Linked DNA regions of Homo sapiens. The protein of the gene in region 3 interacts with the protein of the main gene of each other region in a biochemical or structural test. Each region holds a gene or a part of one and is shown on either strand. Other genes may lie near its edges. The genes, in order: CGN, GAGE12J, IL16, SMCHD1, CACNA1D, SEMA4F and CD226.

Region 1 (4,096 bases), on a different chromosome or scaffold from region 3:
TTGCTGTTCCTCCCCAGGGAACAGGCCGGTTTGATGGCCCTAATCCTTATATACAGCTTGCTCTGGAATGCAGAGACTTTGCATCCCAGCTGAGGAGCTGGTAAGTGGACTTTACTCTGTAGGACCCACACCTAGCTTTTGAAGGCTTGGGGAGGGGCGGAAACCAGCTCCCGAGAATACACCGGAATCTGTGCTGCATCGAAGATTCCTCTTCTACTCCAATAGATACAGGGTAAATATTTGTTGTAACTAAATGAGAACAAAATCCGGAGCCCAGCAACGTAAACGAAGTCAATCTCTTTTTTACATATCTCAACGGTTAACAGCTAGGATGCCAGCTTTAATGTTGTTTTAACTGCAGCTGGTATGAGCGGTCCTGCAGTTTGCAGAGCCCCTAGTTTTTACTCTTTTCTAGGAACTGGGATCAGCATCCCTACTTTTTGAGAGGCTAACTCTGAGGTAAATTTACAACTGAGTCCCTTTCAGTTTAGAACGAAGGTCATTCCTATTTTGGTAAATTTGCGTCCCCGGTTTCCATTCATTCAGTCAACAAATATTTATTAAGCATGTAGTATGTACCAGTCCCTGTTGTAGGCGTTTGGGGTGAAGCAAGGCACAGAACAAGAGATCCTTGCTCTGGTGAAGCTTATCGTAGGACGGGAGGCAAAATGATGAAAATGATTTTTAAAATTATGTTATTAACTAGAAGGTGATAAATATTACATAGAAAAAGATGTCAGGCTGCAAAATGATTGCGGAGGCCACAAGATAAAAGAGAATCCAAGATCAGGGTTCTGGTTCGGGTCAGGGAAAAGGGAGACGAGCTGAGGTGCAGGAGGCTCTGACGTCGGGGGACAACGGAGATATTTTCTGCAGAAAGTGACGAAAGAGCATTCTGGTTCCTGCAGAGGTAGGTGAAGGACAGAAAGGGCCCTGGCCGGCGATTCCCTTGGAGTAAACGGGAGGCAGGAGGCTGTTTTCTAGCAGAGCCCAGAAGATGCTCTGGCCGACGGCTCCCGGGATCTTGGCCGGCGGTCACTCGCGACCATCCGCGACGCCCCCAAAATGGCCTCCGCGCCCCTCGCCGCCCCGCCCCGACGCTCCGCAGCCCGTGGGTCCACGTGACCTGGCCCGCCCTTCGCGGCTGGAGACCCCGGGTCCCGGTCCCCGCACCGGAGGCCCCGCCCCCTACGGGAAGCGGACCAACCGGAGCGGGGAAAGGCGGGGCGGGCACTGACGGCCCGCGGGGGTGGAGCTCCGCAGCGGAGTAACAGGTTGGTGGGAGGGAGAGAAAGGAGGGAGCTCCGAGGACGAGGGGGAGGGCCGGAGCTGCGCGTGCTGCTTTGCCCGAGCCCGAGCCCGAGCCCGAGCCCGAGCCCGAGCCCGAGCCCGAACGCAAGCCTGGGAGCGCGGAGCCCGGCTAGGGTGAGTGGACCCGGTGCGGGCCAGGGCACCCGAGAGGAAAGCGAGCCTTCAGGGGTACCTTTGAGGGGCAGGCATCGAGGCGGTGTGAGATGCCCCTCTCCAGGGCACCGGTGCCGAGTGGGAGACGGGAGGAGGGGAGATTGGGGCGGGGTGGGGTACTGATTAAGAGCCGACCCCTACCCTGAGGTGCCAGATGCAGGTGGCTAGGAAGGTGCCAGGCGAGGGGCACCTGGGGCGAAGGCTGTTCCCAGCGCATGAAAGCGTTTCAGCGCCAGATGTCTCTGGAGGTCAGACGCCAGCCCTAGGGGCAGAATTTCTCTTGGAGACAGCGGTGGCGCGGGGAAGGAGTTAGTTCCAGCTGAGTCGGGAACTGCTGCTGCCTGAGGTGCAGACTCGCCAGGGGAGGGCATCTGCAGGTGCTGCTCGCCTGAGGGTCTTTCCTGCGTCCTGCGGTCTCAGCTGGCCGTTGTCAGCACCCTGGTGGCTTTGAGATGACTCTGAGGTGTGGGATTTTTTCCCCAGCCCTTCACCTCCGGCCGAAGGCAGTTGCGAATCAGAGACACTGAGGGGCAGATGAGAGGGCACCCTCATCTCTTCACCAGGTGTACAACCATTAGGCTTTCACTTTGTGTCCTTTGCTTTCGTGCCAGGGAGAATCGTTCCTTCTTCCTCTTGAGAGAGAGAGAGAGTACTCCCCAAGAGAGGGATATGAGGAAGCAAAGAGCCCTGCCTGGTCCTGCAAAATATTGATAAATATTAATACTTATTTCTCAGGAGGCCCCTTTCTGGGGGCGGATGTCAAACCCTTTCTCCAAGTACCCACATATTTTTTCTGTGGTTCTAGATGGGGACCATTGGATGAGGTTTGGGAGCCCAACCAATTTCCTTGATGTCTGGAGGAATCCCCATTACTCCCTGAACGCCCTCCAGGCATCCCTGACTCCTGAACTGCGGTGGCTGTCAGAATGGCAGCAGGCACTATTGGGGCAGGAAATAGGCAGGACTCATCAGGAGACCACGAGACTAGGGAAATTACAACTCCAAATCCCCAGGACAGATGAAAGGTGCACCTTGGGGCCCAGACAAGACTGGAGGCAAATTTCTTTGCCTTAGGCAGGTAAAGGAACTAGAGTCAACCTTAGCTTGGCCCCTTTGAAGCCCTGCCTGAGGAAGGTTGTTGTAATTGGGAAATAATTAGCAACCGCTATGTTTGTAGATGGGCTGCCTACACATGCCTATGCATCTCTTCTTTCATCCTGGATGTTTGGGAGTCTGGGGGCTGGCTCTGGGGGACTGCTAATCCAGAGATTTGCCCGACTCTAAGAGGATTCTGGCTTCCTAGAACCCTTCCTGTGTTTCCCAGGCTGGCCTGCATGCCATTCCCCTTGTGGGAGGTGATGGGGGTGTAGGGCTCTTCTCTTTGTGCCAGGGAGGGGCGGACTGAGGACCAGGGAGGTGGCCAAAGCAAGTGTGGGATCAGGAATGCAACTTTGGGAACCTCAAAGGGAGGGGTGGAGGGAGACAAAGTCTCCCTGTCACATACTGGCCTGTCACCAGGTTCCTGTTCATCTGCTCCTCCTGCCTGTTCCCTCCCTGCCCTCTGTCCTCTCCTTCAGAGCTTTGGCTTTGCCATCAAGGCTGGAGAGCCCCTGCCTGTGGTCTTGCCCCTCTGCCTCCTCCGTGGTGTGGAATTTCTCTGGTCTGCTTTACAAGCTGCCAGTGTAGTTTCCCCGGCCCTCCCCTTCCCCTTGCCTCTCAAACCAGTCCAGCCAGTTTGCAGGGGCCCAGTTCCTCATTGTGTTTTTTTCCCTACTGGCCAAGCAGCTGTAGCCTGGCTCTCAGGTTTCTGCTCTTTCAGCGGACCTGGGCAGGAGTCCACTTGGGGGATTCTTTTTGGATCCACGGGGAACCTTCTTATCTCTAACTATGAGAAAAAGGGTGCCAAATCATCAAGGTCACTGAGCTGTCCTTTTCTATTTCGACCATTTGCTTTCCTTGTTTCCTCTGAGGGGATTCTAATCTCTATACCTCAAGTTCTCCCGTTTTCTAAATCTGCCAATTATTTAGCATCAAGCATATTGCCTGGCCCTATGTGAATCAGTCCTTCCTCCACACACCCGAAACCACCCCACCCCCACTTCCTGCCAGAAGTCCAGATACCCTGTCACTCCTAGTTGGAAACCAGATGCATATGGCTGGGCCAGAGGTGATGGAATTGGGGCAGGGCAGGCTAATGAGTAACTCAGGGAGAAGTGGCTGTCTGGTACAGGTGTAGAGTGTTCTCCCACTCCTTGCAGGCAGGAAAGGCAGAAGCAGACAGATGCACCTGAATCAACTTGTGGTCTGGTCTCTTCCTGGAGTACAGTTGGTGAGGAGAGCCCTGGACATGTGATAGGGGAGAGAAAAGTAGGGTCAGGCATTGGTGAGGGCGCAGGCCCTGGACTCCATGTTGCCTGGCCCTTGATCACTGTTTACCTGCCTGTCTCTGGGGCTTACGCAAGGCCTCAGAGCTGCCCTGCTGCCTTGGTCCCGCCCCACTGTCCTCTGTAACCAAAGGCGGGTAGGTTTCGGGTTTTCCATGTTGAATCATTTAGAGCCCTGCTTTCTGACCCACCCCAAAGATCCCTTCAGCCCTCCTGGCCCCTGATCCACATGTCCTTGGACTGAAGGT
Region 2 (4,136 bases), on a different chromosome or scaffold from region 3:
TTACCTATTGGGGTAAAGAGAAACTTCACTTTGTTCAAATAAAGTTATATTTAGGTCCGAAGGTCCTAAAGGTAATATTCCATAAATGAACCCCGTGAAGAACAAAGCACCAAATATAACATTGTTTGTGAATCACAGAAAATATACTGTCCCGCACTGAGAATAAGGGAGTGGGTGGACAGCAATTAATGGGCATTGTTGTCAGTCAGATTCTAGGAACTTTTAACAGTGCATCCCTGGAATAATCCATGACCTCCATTACATAAACGCTTCCTTTCAAAACATTTTATCTCGGAGAAATTATTTCCATCTCACGTTAATCTCAGGATAATTCCGTTTTTGCTTTTCTAACCATAAAAGGATTTAATCACCTCCTAAAAGCCGCTGAGAAAAATCACTAAACCAGCTACCTGTATGGCAGTATCCTCATTTATCCAGCTTTTATCAAACGTACCATATAAAAATATCAATCAAAGGAAACGGGGGCCAACATTCAGCGACTCGGTTTTTGGAGCTGCTCCTGCTCCTCTGAACTGGGTCTATTCTTGGGTCAGTACTAAGCTACCTTACAGTAAAGCCTTTTGAGTTTTAAGCATTTTCAGCAAAATCACTTCCTTCTTTACAGCAACACACATGATAGGAAGACACAAACCTTGGAACACAATACAAATGTTGTATTCACCAGTCAAGGGTTCTTGGATAACACACAATCCTGGCACCTCCATTCTCTCATTCATAAAGTCGAGAACTTTTATCATAGTGAGGGATTTGCCTAAGCTAAGCTGCAAACTACATAGCCTCCTCGCTTTTCCAGTCAATTTCAGGCATTCTTTCCATTGTTTTCTTTCCTCCTCTTCCTCCTATGTGACAATGCCTAACACACACACACACACACACACACACACATGCACACACACACACGAACACACACACACGCACACACCAGCAGACGTTCTTCTTCCCTTTCCCTCACCTTGACCTGCAGATGCTCCCTCATCCTCTCCCTCCTGAGCAGCTGCAGGATCCTGACGTTGAGTTGCTGGTTCCCCTTCTTCAGGTGTTGCTGGTTCCACTTCATCACTGAACTGCTCGGGCTGGGGAATACGTGTGGGTGTGCAAATAAAAAATAAGTTTCGTTATTGATACAAAATTTTACATATATACACAGAATACATAGCTATTTCTGGTCCTAACTAAGCCTAAAGACATTTCTCCAACTCTATGCTCTATGCCCAATAAGGTTACTCCACCCACAGGGAGGTTACTGTGAGAAAAGTGACGCACGAGGACTTTGGAGGCTATTGTACTCTGTGTTGGAATACATGTGTACAATCTGTCATTAACAAACAAAGCCGGAGAAAGAAGTCATGGGCAAAAGCTGAAGAACACGAGAGGAAAAAAAAAATCCTCCAGAATCAATGTTTCCTTCATGAGATGCCATCATCATTTTTTATGAGCAGGAAAGACCTTTATCAGCATTTCCACACTAATGCAACAACGCTATCACAAAAATTAATTTCTACTAATAGAAAACATCGAATTAACGTTCAAGCACTCACCCGCATAGGCCCAATCATTTCAGGAGGCTGTACATAGGGTCTTGGTCTAGGCCAATAATAGGTCGATCTTCCTCGCCAACTCATATTTCACACTGAAAACAGACAACCGTGATTGGGAACGTGCGCTCCACAGGGCTGCTATATTCGATCACTTCCATGGATAAATGTAAACTTGCCGTTTTACTTTTGAAAATACTCTCAAGATAAGTCCCAGAGTTAAGCATACGTGTGTACGCTGTCTGAGTGCCTACAAAGCCACTTCTGCTGGCCAGGCTGGCAGAGCAATCATCTTAAGGCATGTGGCAAAAGGCAGAGGACATTTTTTTCTAAATTTCTTTTGGACACGCGGTCTCGCTGTGTTGCTCAGGCTGGAGTGCAGCGGCGTGATCACAGCTCACTGCAGCCTCGACCTCCCGCTCAAGGGATCCTCCCACCTCAGTGTCCCGAGTAACTGGGACTACGTAGGCGAGCGCCACTGCGCCCCGCAGACAGAGGTCATTTCTGATGAGGTTTAGTTTCACAAGTGCACTCCCCACGAAAACCCTAGTGAATCACAATTCTCGTGATTGCTGCTTTGGGCACACTCCCACTTCCTAGAGCCATTCACCCCCCCTCACAACAAGTTTGGTTGGACCGCACTGCCTCGCCCACTCCTTCCCACTGTTTTCGGACCTTCCATGGCGGAGGTGAGACCTTGCAGTGCTTCTCACTCAGGCGCTCCGCACTCCACACCGCTGGGGGGGGCGCTCACCAGGCCGCAGCCTTCCCAGGTGCCAGGCCCCTTCTTCACCGCCCGCCTCGCCCCCGCCGGAGGCCCCATTCAGGGAATCTGCCCTGTGTCGTCGGGGGTTCCCGGCACCTCGGGACTTCCATCCCCCCAACAGCACTCACCCCATCTTCACCTGAGCCCCTGACCGCCTCCCCTCCACGGCCCACCTTCCTCCCCGTCCAGGCCCCTTCACGACCACGAAGCCGCCGGTGGCCTCGCAGCCTGTGAAGGGAAGGAGGACGACCTCGTGGCCCTTCTCCCTCGGAGGCCACAGACCAGGAAGCGGGACCCGCCTGACCCACCCAAGGCCCTCTCCACCCTCACTCACACTTCAGCCCCCGGGATGACTGGCCTGCAGACCTACCAGATGAATCTCAGTAGAGGAAAAAGAGTCCGGACGGCAGGAACCACACAGCACTGCCTCACAGCTCCCTGGCGTTCTTCACGTGGGCGAAGGGGCCGGGCAGAAGACGCCCAGTGAACATGCGCACTGAGGCGGGAGCCCAGGGAGCATGCGCGGCTGTGGGCTGGGGAGGGCTGCCGTTCCCAGCGCCACGCCCCAAACCCTCCATGCCCATCCTCATTGAGGATAAGGGAATCCCACCTCCCTCTGCTGTTTCCTATGCCTCTGGGACTCAAGTAGTGCTCCCCTCAAAACTCACCCCATCTTCAACTGAACCCCACCCCCAACCCAGGGCCCTCTCTTGCCCCGGACCCACCATGGGGACAAGGACCACTGTGACTGGCTGGGAAGACAGGTAAACCACCTGCGAAAACAGAAATAGCAACCTATCCCAAAAGGAAATTGTTCATTGTGAACAAGTCAGAGAAAGAGACTGAAAGAAAAATGAATAGAATCGCTAGGACCCGTAAGAAAATGCTAAAACGATATCTATCATTTGTAGCATCAGAATCACAGAGGGTGAAGTGACAGTATTAGGGAAACAGGACAGCCAGAGTGAAACCACGTGAAAATATACTCCGTCTTGAAAGCAGCAAGATACATAGTCCTACCAGTCACAACCCATGGTCCTAAGATGTTTGGAGTTGAGAAAACAGATGAAAGGTACCTCCAAGGACATGCTCCCACAGCAGCGGAAAGTGCACGGTTCCCAACACCCATTAACAATATATGCTTTCAACAGAATTATGCTTTCATGGCCTTACACACTGGTAAGTCAAGGATAGTTTTCTTTAAATCAATAGAATGATAAAAGTCATCATGCTCTTAGCCCACCCGCACAAAGGCACAGATTAACTTTAGTCTTTATATAGATAAGACCCCTATATAAGAAAAACCAGACCAGGCCAAGGCTCACGCCTGTAATCCTAGTATTTTGGGAGGCTGAGCTGGCCAGATCACCTGAGCTCAGGACTTCGAGACCAGCCTAAGCAACATCAGAAAATCTCATCACTACAAAAAACAAACAAAAAACCATCGAAAAATTAGCTGGGCATGGTGGCATGTACCTATACTCACAGCTACTCAGGAGGCTGAGGTGGGAGGAGCGCCTGAGCCCAGGAGGTCAAGGCTGCAGCGAGCTCTGATAACACCACTGCACTCCAGCCTCGGTGACAGAGTGAGACGCTGTCTCAAGTTTTAATAATCGAACCTAAAAACGTACAAATTTATCAATCGAATTCACTATATTAACACATGAATGGGAAAAAACGCTGTGGTAATCGAAATAGATGCACTGTTTGATGAAAATCAACATATATTCAAATGAATACTCTCAGCAAATTTGGAACAGAATGGAATGACTCACTCTGATAAAGTCCATCTACAAAAAAAGGAGAGTGAATAG
Region 3 (3,500 bases):
CTAGTTTATAATAATAGAATATTAGAAAAACTAACATTTGGGAATATAATTCTGACATTTATTTAATTCTTATAATTCTTATAATAAATCAGAGACTATGCTAATTCATGCATTCACACATAATTTTTATGCAAATTTTATAAGAAAAAGTGAGGCCCTCAGAGACTCTCTTACTCAAAGTCATACCACTAGAGCACAGAGGCTCTGGAATGGAGATCCAGCTGGCTTGACTCCCATGCCTAGCCATTGGGCATTAATCACGTCTACCATGGAACATCCTTATGAAAGAACAACATGCAACCATTGGCACTGATATTGACAAGAAATTAAATGATCTGGGGAAATGTTCAGAGAAAAGAACAGAACACAATTTATTTCAGCTCTGGTTTATTATTTCTACCCACCCAACATGCATATATGCTCGGGAAAGCATGACAGAGAAACTCACCAAAATTTTGACAGTAGTTATTTCTGGCTGATAGGAACACAGGTGAAGTGAATTTTTACTTTCATTCCTTCCTCCTTGTGGCTGAGTTTTCTCTAAGGAGGATGCATTATTTCATGATCAGGAAAAAAAAAAAGAAAACTTTTTATTTAAAGAGAAAGTGAGTTAGGAGCTTGGCTGGCCTTGGTTCTCTCTCATGGGGCTCCTCTGGCTTTCTTGGTCTCTCAGAATGAGCTGGAATTTGAGCAAGAGACTAGATTTCAATCCTCTCCCACCCCTTCAAGCTGTGATTTTAGGAAAGGGGCACCCTTGACAGCTTACCACTAGAGAGAAGGGCCTCTCAAGGATGTGTGGGTAGCCCTAGTGCTGGAAACTAGGGTAGGGGGTACTGAGAACCAGGAAGGGCTAATGGGGAGGGAGGGAGGAAGGTGCAGTGGCTAAGAAATAGCGGCTTTCTGCCCTCACCTCACCCTCAACTGGAAAGAAATAGTGACTTCTTCGTGTAAGATTCAAAGTGCCTTGACAGGTAGTTTCTCTGTCTTTGTTATTGAGCCTCAAAATAACCCCAGTGACTTTAAAATTATCATCCTCATTTTACAGATGCAGAAATGGAGTTGGGTCCCCCAGGAAGCTGACTCTGAGATGGAGTTTGGTCTGCAGGCAGTGTCCTGGGGTTCACTACCTGTGGCAGGGAGGGGAGCAGGCAGGGTAGACAGAGGGAGGACGGAGCTGAGGTGCACACCCAACAGCTTCAGCCAAGCCCTGGAGCTCTGCAGCCAAAGTCCCCATTAGAGTTGTCCTATGTTGGCCAACATAGCTGGGCCTCTGTAACCCTATCTCCAGCAGTCCCTGGAGATGGGCTGCCCCATTGGACAAGGCAGCTGTCTGCAGCTGTGGCAGCCCCTGGAGGGACCCACAGCTGAAAGTAGTCTGCCAGCAGCACTCCCCACAGCTGGGACACCAAGCCCTTCCTCGATGGGTGATCTGGGTGGCATATCTCCATATACATCAGTCATAGGCTCAGAAAGCTTGAATGATTTTCCCAACCCAAAGTCATACAGCTCGCCAGGGACCAACACCAAGACTGCCATACTCCAGATCCACAGTGACTTCAGATAAGAAGCAGATGGCCGATGTGCAGTGTGCTGCCCGTGGCAGTCACAGGTGAGGCCAGGGGGTATTTCTGTTTTCTGAAGCTCAGCTGTGAAGATTCTCTTGTGCTTCCCACACAGGTGTCAAAAGGCTGGAAAGCAGTTGGCACGGGCGGCCCACCTTGGAGAAGGAACGAGAGAAGAACTCAGCACCCCCGCATCGCAGGGCTCAGAAGGTCATGATCCGCTCCAGCAGTGACAGCAGCTACATGTCTGGGTCCCCAGGGGGAAGTCCTGGGAGTGGCAGTGCTGAGAAGCCGTCCTCTGACGTGGACATCAGCACACACAGCCCCAGCTTGCCTCTGGCACGGGAGCCAGTGGTGCTTTCTATAGCATCCTCCAGGCTGCCCCAGGAGAGCCCACCCCTCCCAGAGAGCCGGGACAGCCACCCGCCGCTGAGACTGAAGAAATCCTTTGAGATTTTGGTGAGAAAGCCTATGTCCTCCAAGCCCAAGCCTCCACCCAGAAAATACTTTAAAAGTGACAGTGACCCTCAGAAGAGTCTGGAAGAGAGAGAGAACTCCTCATGCTCTTCTGGGCACACCCCACCCACCTGTGGCCAGGTAAGAGGATGGGTCCACAGGTTGAGTGTTTCCAGGACCAGACTCAAATCTTGAGCATGGGCAAATTAGCAAGTTAGTGTTAGCAGGGCCAGAATGAAAGTTTCTCCTGCTCCACCAGAGAGAAACTGTTGCCTAGGACTCAGCTGAGGACTGACCATGAAAAGATGGGTTTGAAGGTTGACAGATAATTGAAGTCCCAGTCCTGCTTGCTGGCATCTGGGTTCCCACCCATAACACACTGGAATTTAAGGTTCCTTTCTTGTGTCATTTTTCACTCACCATGAAGGAAAAATACCAGGGCCCCTGCAGGGTCTCAGTCTTTGCATGTGGATCTTTGAGTGTCCTGCTTGTAGGGAGAATAGTGGCTTAAATAACTAAAAAGGGGCCTGGCACGGTGGCTCATGCCTGTAATCCCAGCACTTTGGGAGGCTGAGCCGGGTGGATCATGAGCTCAGGAGTTCAAGACCAGCCTGGCCAAGATGGTGAAACCCTGTCTCTACTAACAATACAAAAATTAGCCGGGTATGGTGGCAGGTGCCTGTAATCCCAGCTACGCAGGAGGCTGAGGCAGGGAATTGCTTAAACCCGGGAGGAGTGGCTCCTTCCAAGGGCTATTGTGAGGATTAAAGGTAACCACTTAAGGCAAGTACCTGACAGCATCTCAGGCATATTAGCATTCATTGCCATGATCTTTCCCCATCAGGCCCCTTAAAGCCCTCCTTTCCACCCCTTGCATAAAAGGCAGACTGACTGACAGACAGCTGCTGTGTCTAGAACCATTTTATGCGCAGGCTAACCACACTGAGTACTTTCATGTACATTGTGTCAATTAAATCTTACAACCACCTGATGGTGAGAGTCCCAGTTGTGCAAAGAGGGAACTGAGAAACTCGCTCAAGTTCACATTGCTAGTGGGTCACAGTTACCCACTATGCAATGCTGAGTTTCCCATCCTTACCCAGAAGCTGTCTCCCCCATCACGGAATGGCCCTGCAGGGGCCCTGGCCCTTCCCTTAAGCACACCGTGGGCAGGTGGGAGGGGGCCTCTGGAAATCCCCTAAAACAATCTACAGTGAGGGTTGGCAAGCTTCAGGAGGGGTAGCGGTGGAGACGGGATGTTGAGTAGGAGGGGTGAAAGTGAAGGAGGGAGGAGGAAGCCAGGTTACTAAAAAGGAAGTGCAGTTTTGCAGAGCGCTGGCAGGATGTGGCTGGTTAGCAACACATGATGGAGTTATCAGATGGATCTGTTCTCCCACCCCCTCTTTTAAGCCCATATTTCATTTTCCCTTGGGCCTGAGACCTATGAGTCCAGAAGGGCAAATCAGGAGCAGCCAGCTGAGA
Region 4 (3,500 bases), on a different chromosome or scaffold from region 3:
AATTAATAATCTGAGATTACATGGTCAACAAGCAGTGAAACTGGGATTGGAATTTAGGTCAATTTGATTCCAAAGCTTATGTATACATATACATATATATGTGTGTGTGTATATATATGTATATGTATATATACATATATATACACACATACACACATATATACACATATATACGTGTATACGCATATATACATATATACACATATATACACATATATATACACACACATATATATATTTTTTACACTACTCCACACTATTTATTAGAACCATCACTTTTGTCCTTAGGGGAAGAGACAAAATAATATACTAAAGTTTTTGTTAAAATGTAAATTAAACCAATAAATGTTTGTAGTGTCAGGCAGTATTATGGGTGATCCTAAACTGTTACTTATTTATTTATTTTTTTTGAGACGGAGTCTCGCTCTGTTGCCCGGGCTGGAGTGCAGTGGTGCCATCTTGGCTTACTGCAACCTCTGCCACCCAGGTTCAAGTGATTCTCCTGCCTCGGCCTCTTGAGTAGCTGGGATTACAGGTGCCTGCCACCACGCCTGGCTAATTTTAATACTTTTAGTAGAGATGGGGTTTTGCCATGTTGGCCAGGCTGATCTTGAACTCCTGACCTCAGGTGGTCCACCTGCCTTGGCCTCCCAAAGTGCTGGGAATACAGGCATGAGCCACCACGCCCAGCTCTAAATTGTTATTTGAATAAAGTTCACCTCATGGAAAAGGAGAGGGAAGAAATGGAAAGGACAAATCTGCAAGAAGCCCTTAGACCTCTGATAAGCAGCTGTTGACTCACCTGAGCCCTTGTGGCCTTGCAGAATCAACGATTAGAAGATGACTCATTTGGTTAGTTCTAAAATATGCCCAGATGTTAAGTCCCATGTGTGCATATCCCCCCACCACCAATTTGAAGAAATTGTCTACATTTTCCTTTGTGTGGCTCCAATGTTTTTTGTTGTGCGGCTATTCTAGGTGTTTTGTATTTTAATATAAGATGTGCTCATCAATTTCTACAATAAACTTGAGATTTTGAAAAAAAAAAAAAAAAAAAGCAGAAAACTATGGCTTAGCAAGTGCCATAGTAAGGTAACGAAATATAATGGAGCCACATTAAAAGCTGACTAGTTTGCAGAGTTTCAGAGCAGTGCTAATTAAGCTGTGTGCTTTCTGACTAATCCATGGATGAAAATTACCTGTTGTTCAGAGATAGTGAAAAAATAATTTTAAAAATAAAATTAACTGATCATTTTGGTAGGTAATCATTTTATGCACTGCAAGTCAGTTAGTCCTTAAATATTTAAGAGAAGTTGGGGACGGCATAGTGGCTTACACCTGTAATCCCAACACTTCGGGAGGCCAAGGCGGGCGGATCACCTGAGGTCAGGAGTTAGAGATCAGCTTGGCCAACATGGTGAAACCCCGTCTCTACTAAAAATACAAATATTAGCTGGATCTGGTGGCGGGTGCCTGTAATCCCAGCTACTCGAGAGGCTGAGGCAGGGAGAATTACTTGAACCCGGGAGTCGGAAGTTGCAGCGAGCTGAGAACGCACCGCTGCACTCTAGCCTGGGTGGCAGAGCGAGACTCTTGTCTCAAAAAACAAACAAACAATAATAAAATAAAATACTTAGAAAAATTGTGAATTCAAGAAATAATTTTTATAGATGAAGCAGGGAAAACAAAAAGATAGTTTATGTGTCTTAATTAAATAATAATAAATTTATAGATTAAAAATCCATGGTTTTTTTTTTTTTTTTTTTGATGGGAGTTTCACTCTTGTCACCCAGGCTGGAGTGCAGTGGCGCAATCTTGGCTCACTGCAACCTCCGCCTCCCAAGTTCCAGCGATTCTCCTGCTTCAGCCTTCCAAATAGCTGGGATTACAGGCACCAGCCGTCATGCCCGGCTAATTTTTGTATTTTTAGTAGAGATGGGATTTTACCATGTTGGCCAGGGTGGTCTGGAACTCCTGACCTCAGGTGATCGATCTACCCACCTCGGCCTCCAAAAGTGCTGGGATTACAGGCATGCGCCACCATGCCCCCTGGAAAATCCATGGATATTTAATATGGATGAAAAATCCATGGATATTTCATATGGATTTTTGATGTGGATTAAAAACCATGGATTTTTAATATGGATTAATTTTAAAGTTTATTGCAGCACTATTTACAATAGTAAAGACGTGGGACCAACACAAATGCCTATTGATGATCAACTGGATAAAGATAATGTGGCACATATACACCATGGAATACTATGCAGCCATAAAAAAGAATGAGATCATGTCCTTTGCAGGGACGTGGATGAAGCTGGAAGCCATCATTCTCAGCAAACTAACACAGGAACAGAAAACCAAACACTGCATGTTCTCACTCATAAGTGGGAGTTGAACAATGAGAACACATGAACATAGGGCGGGGAACATCACACACAGGGACCTGTTGTAGGGTAAGAGGCAAGGAGAGGGAGAGAATTAGGACAAATACCTAATGCATGTGGGGCTTAAATCCTAGATGACAGGTTGATAGGTGTGGCAAACCACCATGGCACATGTATATCTATGTAACAAACCTGCATGTTCTGCACATGTATCCAGGAACTTAAAAAAAAAAAAAGATAGTTTGTGTGTCTTAATTGAATAATAGTAGATTTATAGATTAAAAATCTATGGGTTTTTAATATGGATTAGAAATCTGTGGGTTTTTAATATGGATTAGAAATCTGTGGGTTTTTAATATGGATTAGAAATCTGTGGGTTTTTAATATGGATTAAAAAACATCTGTGGGTTTTTAATATGGATTAAACATCTGTGGGTTTTTAATATGGATTAAACATCTGGGTTTTTAATATGGATTAAACATCTGTGGGTTTTTAATATGGGTTAAAAATCAAAAGAAAATGAACTATTTGCTCCAGTGCAGGAAAATACAGGCAATACTGGATACAATTAGATGGTCAGGAGCGATAACCCGGTTGCCATTGTTTGAAGAAGAGAATAAGGTGCTAGCATTCCTATCCGTAGATAATTTGACAGCTAGGAAATAGGGGGAGTCTTCTATGTAGTTAGTGAAGGCTAAATGAACTATTATATGCAGTTATCGTAGAAGAGTACTCAAAAAAATCTGTAAAAAATAAAGAAAGGCCGGGCGCGGTGGCTCACGCCTGTAATCCCAGCACTTTGGGAGGCCGAGGCGGGTGGATCATGAGGTCAGGAGATCGAGACCATCCTGGCTAACAAGGTGAAACCCCCGTCTCTACTAAAAAAATACAAAAAATTAGCCGGGCGCGGTGGCAGGCGCCTGTAGTCCCAGCTACTCGGGAGGCTGAGGCAGGAGAATGGCGTGAACCCGGGAAGCGGAGCTTGCAGTGAGCCGAGATTGCGCCACTGCAGTCCGCAGTCCGGCCTGGGCGACAGAGCGAGACTCCGTCTCAAAAAAAAAAAAATAAAATAAATAAATAAATAAATAAAGAAAGAAAGAAAGAAAGAAAGA
Region 5 (3,500 bases), on a different chromosome or scaffold from region 3:
TGGCCTGGCCCAGTCCAGACAGGCGATTTAGGCTGACCCTGCCAAGAATAGCCCCTGAGAAAATGGCTCTAACACATGGAGGCAAGGATCTGCGGAAGACATTTATCCCATGATGATTTCTCTGTGTCTACCACAGCCGGGAACTTAGTAAGGCTCTTGTCACTTTTAAACCTGTAAGAAGCAGAAACCTAGTTCACACAGTGCCCTAATTGGATGTACTTTTAGGTTTTAATATGCAGTGTGCAGCCGAAGAATGAGTGTAACATGATCCTTGCAACAGAAGAAAAGGACACGGAGAGGTCATTTGGTAGGAGGCTCCACTGTGAGATGACCACCGATGATTACTTCTGCCGAAAACCTAGCAGTCACAGCAGTCAGCCGAAATAGGATTTGTGTATGTCATTTTCCTTTTAAAAGTGCTTTGAAAGTGGTGTGATCGGGAGTGTGATGAGGGACATGGTTTATGTTTCCATAACACATATATACCTTAACACATTTTTTCAGACCATTTGACATATTTATATTATTGGCTATTTTTGCCAATTGTGTGGCCTTAGCTATTTACATCCCATTCCCTGAAGATGATTCTAATTCAACAAATCATAACTTGGTAAGTGTCCTTAGAGTTCCTGCTGGTCCTGGTATATGGTTATCATTTGCTTCTATACTTAAACTGGCAGCTGGCCTTCTGGGTGGTTGAAGTTTATAGCTATGCATGTCGTGTTTCTTGGAGCTTTGCAACAGTGGTTTTTTGTTTGTTTGTTTGTTTTAACCTGTATTCTCAAATTTATACTGACTGAAAGTATTTAAAGTCATGAATCTTTTATAAATAGATATGGAATTTTTATGGAAGAGATTTGGAGCAGATTTTAAAATAACTGTTATCTCCACATAAGTTTTTGCTACCATTCTTTTCCTGATAATATTAGCTTTTTTCTTTTCTTTTTTTTTTTTTGTTTTTAATCTAGTGTTCTTGGGAGTGGTGGGTACTTTGGTCAGTTGTTCTGGTAAGTAGAGAATTATCGTAGACTTTGTACATGAACTATTTTTAGAGAAGTAGAATATAACAAAACTAATAAATCTACATAGAGCATAATTTGGAGAATAATACATGATATTATTGAATACATGATATAATATTAAAGTTTCTACTCCACGTCCTATGAAATGCTCCAAGAGAAAATGATTGTATGGTTAAATAAATCAGGATGCTTCCATATACTTTGCTGCCTTCTTAAAGATTTATAGTGCACATTAGCTTAGTAAAAGCTTTGGGAAGTTCTGCAGTTAAAAAACAGGTTTCCTTTTATTTAACTCAGCTAGTCCCTAAAAGTAATCAGTCATGAATTCTTTAAACATTTTTTTTTTTTTTGGCAAAAGACTTTAACATCATGGAACCAGTGGTCCATGGAACTTCCTTTGGGAAAGGTTGATATAGTTTTTTTTTTAAAAAAAAAGCACTAAAGAGTACTAGACTGGGACTAGGATCTTGTCCCACTCACCTGTCAACTAGCTGTATTTGGGGTCATTTCTCATACCTTTCTGCATTGCTGTGCAGCCACCTGGCAATTAGGAGGATTGGGTAAGAAGATTGCTAGTATCGTTTTTACCTCTGACATTCTGCAATCTTTCTTTGATGATTCAGAAGCCATTTCAGGATTTTTCTGGTGCTGCAGCATCCTTCTTGCAAGGATTGGTTCTTTGCAATCAGAAGCCATGCAGAATGGGAGATGAAGGGGAGCCCATTCTGGATAACAGGAAACTCTATTGTTTTTCTTCTCTTCTCTTAGCTGGTTCCGTTTGTTTTTGGCTTCTCATGTTGAAGCTCTATTTTAGCAGGGCTGGATGTTCCTAACTGAGCGAGCGTTGTAAAGGCAAACACACTAGGCTCTCCCTTGTGTGGGAGAGCTCTGCTGGCTTCTGAAGATAGTGAAATTATGCTCTTGTGAATAAGCCTTAACGATTTATGTACAGGATTTCATGTTACATTTAAAATGTTGTGGCACATTTCAGATGTAATGTGATGTCTATTTGTATGTGGGCTTTAGTAGTTTGATATCTAGAGAATTTTCTAAAAATTTTGGGAATTGATGCTGAAAATACAACTATAAATGGGAGTCGGATAACCACATAAACACTGGTAGTATATATTTGGACAATGCCAGAGATCATTTGTGTAACTTTGGACATTTTATGTAGCTTTTGATTTCTTTGTAGACATGTGACATTAGATGATTGTTTTAAAGAAAAAGCAGAAGTGGTGGAAAGCCTCCCATCAATGGAGATAGATCATCGTAGTCTAGGCCACAGATGGTGTTAGCCTTGTTACCAAATTTAACGACGTGGATGGTGACCCAGATTGTTACTTTTCGTAGCTCAAGAGAACATGATTAAACAAACTTAGAAAATAAATACCTTTCAGAAAGGCAGATTAATTCAGATCAGTGGAATAATTAATGTAGCTGCATGTGTAAGCCAATTAATATTCTGAATTTTTCCCAGGGAAATTCAGGGCACTGATATAGGCACTGTCAGACCATTTGGATTTCTCAGCTAAGAAGTCAGGAAATAAAATACAGGAAATGGATTAATCTTTCCCTTTTGCACCCCTTCTCCAGTGAATCTTTTCTTGACTATTCTTAAGCTTTGAACTTTTTTTTTTTTTTGTGGGGGGGGATTTGGCAGTGTGTTAATTTGGTGGGCCTTTCTAAAAGCCAACGTATATTCCTTTGACCTCTTCATATAGTATTCTGAAACTCATGGCATTCAACTTTGTGTCTTGCTTTCACTTGGGTGGTCACATGGCCAGATGAATTTTTACTCTGCTTGACTCTTTAAATACTTCCTTTCCCACTGTGGGAAGGGAAGATCTTTGTGGATTTCCTTCTGACTCTAAGCAAGGTCCCATGCCATGTTGGTCCTCCCATGAGGGAGCTGGTTTTTTGTTTTTTTTTTTTTAAATACATTTGACCCAATTTGTACTAGAGTGATTGCTCTATTTTTGGGATTGGTTTAGAGGCAGCTGAACGAAACTTATTTTTCATCTGTAGTAAATACCTTTCATTTAATGTGAATGGTAAAATCAAAGGGCAGACGCTGAAATGAGTTGCAAGGCTGCATGTATCTGGAAGCTGCTGGTTTTCTTTGCCTGATAGCTCCATGGGAAAGATGCAGTTGAGCGATAGAGTGAGATCCAGGGCCAGCTTTATGTATGATGTTTCTGCCTGTTACCAGTTACCTAGTAAAATTATGACTTTTTTTGGGGAAGAAACGTGGCCATCCCCATTGATCCAATGTGTCTTTGTTCTAGATAGTATGTAACTCAGCTAGTTTTGGGATTTGGAGACTACCTTGGGGGGCAGAAGTTTTCCCAGGGATAGTTTTTGTTCTTTATTTTTTTAAAAATATAAACACTCTCAAGTTTCTCTGCAGCTTTCGTTTATGGACTTGCAGGGCTAGTGGAGGCTGGAGTCATGGAAACGGTGCAACTCAGTTCCCAC
Region 6 (3,047 bases), on a different chromosome or scaffold from region 3:
GGAGGGGGGTGGTGGGGAGTGTGGGCTGTGTGTTTATGCCAGTGTTCTGGGTTGTTCTTGTGTACATTGCCCATACCTCAGTTCATCCAAGGGAGAAGAACATAGACTGTGAAGTTCCTGTGGCAACAGCTGTGCATGTGGTCTTCCTGTGTTCCCCACTCTCAGCTAGACTAATCAACCTTGGTTTTACCCAAGAAATTTCCATCTATTTATTCATACCAGTCTTGGGAGCTCATTTCAGGGACCTCAATTCATATTGAAGGAGTTCATACTCAGATGAGTCTGTGTTTGATTGAGGCTTTTTGTGTTCAGACCTTTTCACTGACAACCCTAGTGTAGGGGTCTCATTGACTTCCCAGCCTCTGCGAGTGGTGCCAGAGAGTTCAGCAGTGAGCAGTCCATCTTGCTATCCTCCATCAGATATAGTCCACCCAAATCCTGGAAGTGACAGGACTGTGCCTGGAGCTTCCGGCTGGATGACCCCAGATCCTTTGAAATAACACATAGGCCAGTATATATCAACCACTATTGAAGAGTTCCTTTGTAGAGACAAGTAGCTTTTAGGAAACAAGAAGTCACCTCACTGACCCTAAAGGAATTTTGATTAGCTTCTACAGAAAAGGAGTTTGCTCTTTCTCTTAAATAAGAGAAAAAAAAATCCCTATAGTTTTTATCCTTTTTTTTCCTAGAGAAATCTTGTGGTTGTGGAGAACCAGGTTCATTTCTTAGAAGATTCTGTTTCTTTTAAAGCACCCCCACTAAACATCTTTACAACAGACCTAGTGCAAATTTAGCTATCACTGGTCTGCTAGAAAGATGCATGGAACTTGATATGGCAAATGAAATGTCATGAGTAATATTAAGAGGTATTGGGGAAAAATTTGGTGATGAGGAGAAACTTGACTGATAATTTCTGGAGTGATTTCTGGGATGATGGGAGATATATTGAATGAGGGAGTCTTCAGTAATACTGAGGGGGGTTGAAGGGAATGTTCACACTGGATTTACCAAGCATTCTCTTCTTTATAGGTTGGTCCAAGACATAGAGTCAGCAGATGTCTCCTCTTTGTGTCCTAAAGAGCCTGGAGGTCTGTATGGTCTGTATGGATTAGGGAAATGTGGGTGGAGTGGATGGAAAGGGGCTAGAGAGTTGTTCATTTTGGAACGATTCTAAACCTTGGATCCTGGAAGATGTGGCAGCCAGGAACCTCGGGCCTTAGCCTCTTTAGGAATCCCCTTTTTAGCTTAGTCTCCATAGCCCCTTTTCATGTCCGACATCACCCCACACTTTTCTTCATCACACCTCCAGCCTTTAGCCTCACCTCCTTTTGTGCCTTTGCTGTTTCTCACAGAACGTCCAGTAGTGTTTGAAGTTCCCGTGGCTACAGCTGCGCATGTGGTCTTGCCATGTTCTCCAAGCTCAGCATGGGCATCCTGTGTGTGGCACCAGCCCAGTGGAGTGACTGCACTCACCCCCCGGCGGGATGGACTGGAGGTGGTGGTGACCCCAGGGGCCATGGGCGCTTATGCCTGTGAATGTCAGGAGGGTGGGGCAGCCCATGTGGTAGCAGCTTACAGCTTGGTATGGGGCAGCCAGCGAGATGCTCCGAGCCGGGCCCACACAGTGGGGGCGGGACTGGCTGGCTTCTTCTTGGGGATTCTCGCAGCATCCCTGACTCTCATTCTGATTGGTCGGCGTCAGCAGCGACGGCGACAGAGGGAACTTCTGGCTAGAGACAAGGTGGGCCTGGACCTGGGGGCTCCACCTTCTGGGACCACAAGCTACAGCCAAGACCCTCCCTCCCCCTCTCCTGAAGATGAGCGGTTGCCGCTGGCCCTGGCCAAGAGGGGCAGTGGCTTTGGTGGATTCTCACCACCCTTCCTGCTTGATCCTTGCCCAAGCCCAGCCCACATTCGGCTAACTGGGGCTCCTCTAGCCACATGTGATGAAACATCCATCTAGAGCTGGGCAAATGACCACTAGTGTATAAGTGATCACTGGAACGGAGTGACCACTGAGATGCTGGGGGTCACTGGGCCTGGAAGACCATCCCAGCCTCTGAGTTCTCTTTGAGTATGAGTGATTACTTGGATTTTAGTATCTGTTCTCTCTGAGCCTGGATGGGCTTGGGGCCAGACCTTTGCCTGATTCCTGATTCCCATGAGAAATCAGAACTGCTTTCTGCAGCAAATCAGGGCTTCCCCCTAACATCTGAACTCCTGTAAACCTTCATCCCTGGCCCCCTATCTTGGGCCCATTAGTTTTGGGGATGGGGCACAGGGCATAGCTATGACTTTGCTTTCTGGTTGGAGCCTGGCCGGAAGGAAGAGCCCTGGAGGTGGTTGGGGGCAAATGTGCCCTGAGTCCTTGGGGTGGTTCTGCTTATTCTTCAAGTTTATCTGAATCTGTGGGGAGTGCATGATCCCCATGTTGCAATATGGAGTCTCTGCCCTGAGATCTTCCCCATCTCAGTTTTCCTTCCATGAAAGAGTACGTGTAAATACATAGTGTTCATAAGAGACCTGGCCACATGTGCATGAATGACTGGGCCGATGCTTAGGAATATTTATGAGGGATGGGGAGGGAGACAATTGGAATGGGGGCGTTGCCTGCAGAACTTTAGACCCTGTAGCCATAGAGGGAATGGCGTTCCTTTCTAAAAGGAACTGAAACACTGCCCCTCTCCCCATTGCCCCACAACCTTACTCTAAATTTGAGTAGAGAAAAGCTCCTAAAGTGACCTTCCGGGTGGGAAGGGCAGCAGTACACATGACCCCATCCTTTTCTTTGTTTTTACCCCCTGGCTGCCACCACTGCCATGTCACAGCTGCTTTCTCTGGCTGGAGTGTAGGCTGTACCCCATTTCCTTGGCTCCCATTAAAAATCAACAACATTCTAATGATTAGGGAACAACAGAAGGGGAACAGTCATAGGATATACGAGCAGTATAAAGATACGTTTGCAATCAGTGACTACTCAGGGTGACACCCTTGCCCTAAAGCAGGAGTCCCCCCTACCTGGGGTCCATGGACTCCCTGAAATTGTA
Region 7 (3,500 bases), on a different chromosome or scaffold from region 3:
GTGTCTGTGGCTTCTCCAGTTGCATGGTGCAAGCCGTCTGTGGATCAGATTCAGATTGTGGGGTCTGAAGGATGGTGGCCCTCTTCTCACAGCTCTACTAGACAGTGCCCCAGTGGGGATTCTGTGTGGGGGCTCCAACCCCACATTTCCCTGCTGCAGTGCCCTAGCAGAGGTCTTCCATGAGGGCTCTGCCCTTGCAGCAACTTCTGAATGGACACCCAGGTGTTTCTGTACATTTTCTGAAGTCTAGGCAGAGGTTCTCAAACCACAGTTCTTGACTTCTGTGCACCCGCAGGCCCAACACCACGTGTAAGCTGTCAAGGCTTGGGGCTTGCACCCTCTGAAGCAACAGCCTGAGCTGTATGTTGGCCCCTTTTAGCCGTGGCTGGGACATAGGGCACCATATGCAGTCCCGAGGCTGCATAGAGCAGGGGGTCTTAGGCTTGGCCCAGGAAATCACTTTTCCCTCCTAGGCTTATGATGGAAGGGGCTGCCATGAAGGTCTCTGACATGCCTTGGAGACATTTTCCCCATTGTCTTGGTGATTTACATTTGGCTCCTCATTACTTATGCAAATTTCTGCAGCTGGCTGGAATTTCTTCCCAGAAAATGTTTTTCTTTTCTGTCGCATCATCAGGCTGCAAATTTTCCAAATTTTTTATGCTCTGCTTCCTCTTGAATGCTTTGCCCCTTAGAAGTTTCTTCTGCCAGATACCCTAAATTATCTCTCTCAAGTTCAAAGTTCCACAGATCTCTGGGGCAGGGGCAAAATGCCACCAAACTCTTTGCATAGCAAGAGTGACCTTTACTCCATTTCCCAAAAAGTTCCTCATCTCCATCTGAGACCACCTCAGCCTGGACTTCATTGTTTATATCACTGTCAGCATTTTGGTCAATGTCATTCAACAAATTTCTAGGAAGTTCCCAAATTTCCCACATTTTCCTGTCTTCTTCTGAGCCCTCAAAACTGTTCCAACCTCTACCTGTTACCCAGTTCCAAAGTTGCTTTCACACTTGTGGATATCTTTACAGCAACCCTCCACTCTCTGCTGTACTCATTTACTGTATTACTCAGTTTTCATGCTGCTAATAAAGACATACCTGAGACAGGGTAATTTATAAAGGAAAGAGGTTTAATTGATTCTCAGTTCAGTATGGGTGGGGAGGCCTCAGGAAACTTACAATCATGGTGGAAGGGGAAGCAAATATGTCCTTCACATGGTAGCAGGGAGAAGAAGAGTGAGTGCCCAGAGCAGGGGAAGCCCCTTATAAAACCATCAGATCTCATGAGAACTAACTCACTATCATGAGAACAGGATGGGGGAAACCACCCCCATGATTCAGTTATCTCCACCTGGTCTCTCCCACGACACGTGAGGGTTATGGGAACTACAACTCAAGATGAGATTTGGGTGGGCACACGGCCAAATTATATCATATGATCATGGAGACTGATAAGCCCAAATTTGCAGTGTGGGCTTGCAGGCTGCAGACCCAGGAGAGCCGATGGTACAGGTGAAGCCCAGGTCATCTGCTGCAGAATCCCTCTTGCTTGGGGAGGCTGGTCTTTTTGTTGAATTAGGCTCACCTACATTATGGAGGCAAACTGCTTATTCAAAATTCACCAATTTAAATGTTAATCTCATCCCAAAACACCCTTCAAATTGACACGTAAAATTAACCATCATACCTGTTTTGGAAAATGATATGGCATTAGCTAGTTAAAAACCCCAAATCCTATGATCCAATAATTCTACTCTGTTTGGTATCCAAGAGTTCTCTCATTATAGGGAAAATTCCTGACAATATTTATAGCAACAGTGATTGCAATAGCAAAAAATTGGTAACAACCCAAATACCCATCAACAGTAGAACCGAAAAGCACACTGAGGTCTATTCACACATTAGGATACTCTACATCACTAAAATGAGTGAATTATCACTTGCTCACCGACATGGATGAAGCTCATGAACTTTGTGTTGAAAGAAAAGAGCAAGTTACCAAAAAAAATAGGTAAACTAGGGTTCCTTTTCTTTAAAGGTTTTAGAAATATGCATAATTAAACAATACGTTATTTATAGATACAAACGTGGTAAAACTATAAAGAAAAGCAAAGTTCAGAAACATGGTAGGTGGGGGATAGAATAGAATCAGGAAGGGCTGAAAGGGTCTTTAAGGCTCATAGTCAGGGTGTTTTCCTTATACAGGTGTTTTATTTTGCATTTGTCTCAAAATGTTTTAGAAGATTTCTTTCAAATCTACTGATTTCTTTTTCTTTTCCTTTTTTGAGACAGAGTCTCACTCTGTTGCCCAGGCTGGAGTGCAGTGGCATGATCTCAGCTCATTGCAACCTCTGCCTCCTGGGTTCAAGTGGTTCTCCTGCCTCAGCCTCCTGAGTAGCTGGGATTACAGGCCTGCATCATCACACCCAGCTAATTTTTGTATTTTTGTAGAGATGGGGGTTTTGCCATGTTGGCCAGGCTGATCTCAAACTCCTGACCTCAGGTGATCCACCCCACCTTGGCCTCCCAAAGTGCTGGAATTACAGGCATAGGCCACCTTGCCTGGCCAAATCTACTGATTTCTAATGGTGAAAAGAGATGTGATTGCAATTTTTGAGCAGTTGAAAGCTCTAAGGTAAGGATGAAATCTTCATTCTGATATGGCCTGGGGGCCAGGTAGAGGTAAGTTTCAGCAATGGTTTCAAATTTTTATGATCCAAGGACTAAAAAATGATGATTTTAGTGAAAAAGATGTGAAATTAAGAGACCAACTTGGCTAGCAAGAGTGGAATTAAGTCTGTTTCAGGTGTATTAAATTGTAAAGTAGCCTTTGACCAGCTGACAATTGAAATTATGGAACAACAAACCAGGATTGAAAATATCCAATTTGAAGTCATCTGAATGATCATCCAGCACATGTGGATGGATGGGGTTAACTAAGAAAGTACCAATGGATGGGGGCAGAAGTCTAAGGTCATAGCTTGTGGCTTGGAGGATGGTCACATTGTAGTGTGTTAAAGAAGGTGTTCATGTTAAAGAATGTAGAGGGCATAGAGAAAAGAGGGGGAGAGTTGGGAGGGAGAGGAAAGTGAACAGGTGAATTATTGATGTGAGAGCAGAAGACACATAGAACTCATATTTATAGTAGAGGGTTAGATTTTCTTGCTCCACACATGCAGGTACTTTGTGTTGGCTGTATTGTATGTTTGCTGACTCTGTGATCTCCCATATTCCAGTCCATTTATCTCAAACTGGGCACAGAGATGTTCCTCACTGTTTCCCTTTAAGAGTCTCATTCTCTCCCAGGTGGGATGAGGCTCCTTATATGCCATCCATGCTCATTCTTAGAAGGCTCTTATCTCTACACCCTTCAGGGACAAGTGTTCTCTGTCCAGGTTCCCAGCAGCTGACATAGCAGCCAAAGTTTTCTTTCATTCTTGTATATATCTGCTGGTTAGTGGCACTAAAGAGATTCCTTTAATATTAAGGGCTCCAGA

The links.
Region 1: the proteins of IL16 (region 3) and CGN interact in a test that uses a peptide from one of them, tested with the Homo sapiens proteins (one large-scale study listed by IntAct).
Region 2: the proteins of IL16 (region 3) and GAGE12J interact in a test that uses a peptide from one of them, tested with the Homo sapiens proteins (one large-scale study listed by IntAct).
Region 4: the proteins of IL16 (region 3) and SMCHD1 interact in a test that uses a peptide from one of them, tested with the Homo sapiens proteins (one large-scale study listed by IntAct).
Region 5: the proteins of IL16 (region 3) and CACNA1D interact in a test that uses a peptide from one of them, tested with the Homo sapiens proteins (one large-scale study listed by IntAct).
Region 6: the proteins of IL16 (region 3) and SEMA4F interact in a test that uses a peptide from one of them, tested with the Homo sapiens proteins (one large-scale study listed by IntAct).
Region 7: the proteins of IL16 (region 3) and CD226 interact in a test that uses a peptide from one of them, tested with the Homo sapiens proteins (one large-scale study listed by IntAct).

Annotation. Positions count from the first base shown.
Region 1 is NC_000001.11:151,510,091-151,514,186, forward strand, and holds the start of CGN (cingulin), read left to right. Parts: upstream 1-1,296; 5' UTR 1,297-1,425; intron 1,426-4,096. UniProt on the Homo sapiens protein: Probably plays a role in the formation and regulation of the tight junction (TJ) paracellular permeability barrier.
Region 2 is NC_000023.11:49,320,701-49,324,836, reverse strand, and holds the start of GAGE12J (G antigen 12J), read right to left. Parts: upstream 2,801-4,136; 5' UTR 2,693-2,800; intron 1,652-2,692; 5' UTR 1,644-1,651; coding exon 1,560-1,643; intron 1,095-1,559; coding exon 974-1,094; intron 1-973.
Region 3 is NC_000015.10:81,290,879-81,294,378, forward strand, and holds part of IL16 (pro-interleukin-16), read left to right. Parts: intron 1-1,677; coding exon 1,678-2,159; intron 2,160-3,500. UniProt on the Homo sapiens protein: Interleukin-16 stimulates a migratory response in CD4+ lymphocytes, monocytes, and eosinophils. Primes CD4+ T-cells for IL-2 and IL-15 responsiveness. Also induces T-lymphocyte expression of interleukin 2 receptor. Ligand for CD4.
Region 4 is NC_000018.10:2,658,726-2,662,225, forward strand, and holds part of SMCHD1 (structural maintenance of chromosomes flexible hinge domain-containing protein 1), read left to right. Parts: intron 1-3,500. UniProt on the Homo sapiens protein: Non-canonical member of the structural maintenance of chromosomes (SMC) protein family that plays a key role in epigenetic silencing by regulating chromatin architecture.
Region 5 is NC_000003.12:53,501,111-53,504,610, forward strand, and holds part of CACNA1D (voltage-dependent L-type calcium channel subunit alpha-1D), read left to right. Parts: exon of another isoform or gene 1-337; coding exon of another isoform or gene 338-394; intron 395-504; coding exon 505-610; intron 611-3,500. UniProt on the Homo sapiens protein: Voltage-sensitive calcium channels (VSCC) mediate the entry of calcium ions into excitable cells and are also involved in a variety of calcium-dependent processes, including muscle contraction, hormone or neurotransmitter release, gene expression, cell motility, cell division and cell death.
Region 6 is NC_000002.12:74,678,247-74,681,293, forward strand, and holds part of SEMA4F (semaphorin-4F isoform 1 precursor), read left to right. Parts: intron 1-1,029; coding exon 1,030-1,088; intron 1,089-1,352; coding exon 1,353-1,963; 3' UTR 1,964-3,047. UniProt on the Homo sapiens protein: Probable cell surface receptor that regulates oligodendroglial precursor cell migration. Might also regulate differentiation of oligodendroglial precursor cells. Has growth cone collapse activity against retinal ganglion-cell axons.
Region 7 is NC_000018.10:69,937,874-69,941,373, reverse strand, and holds part of CD226 (CD226 antigen isoform a precursor), read left to right. Parts: intron 1-3,500.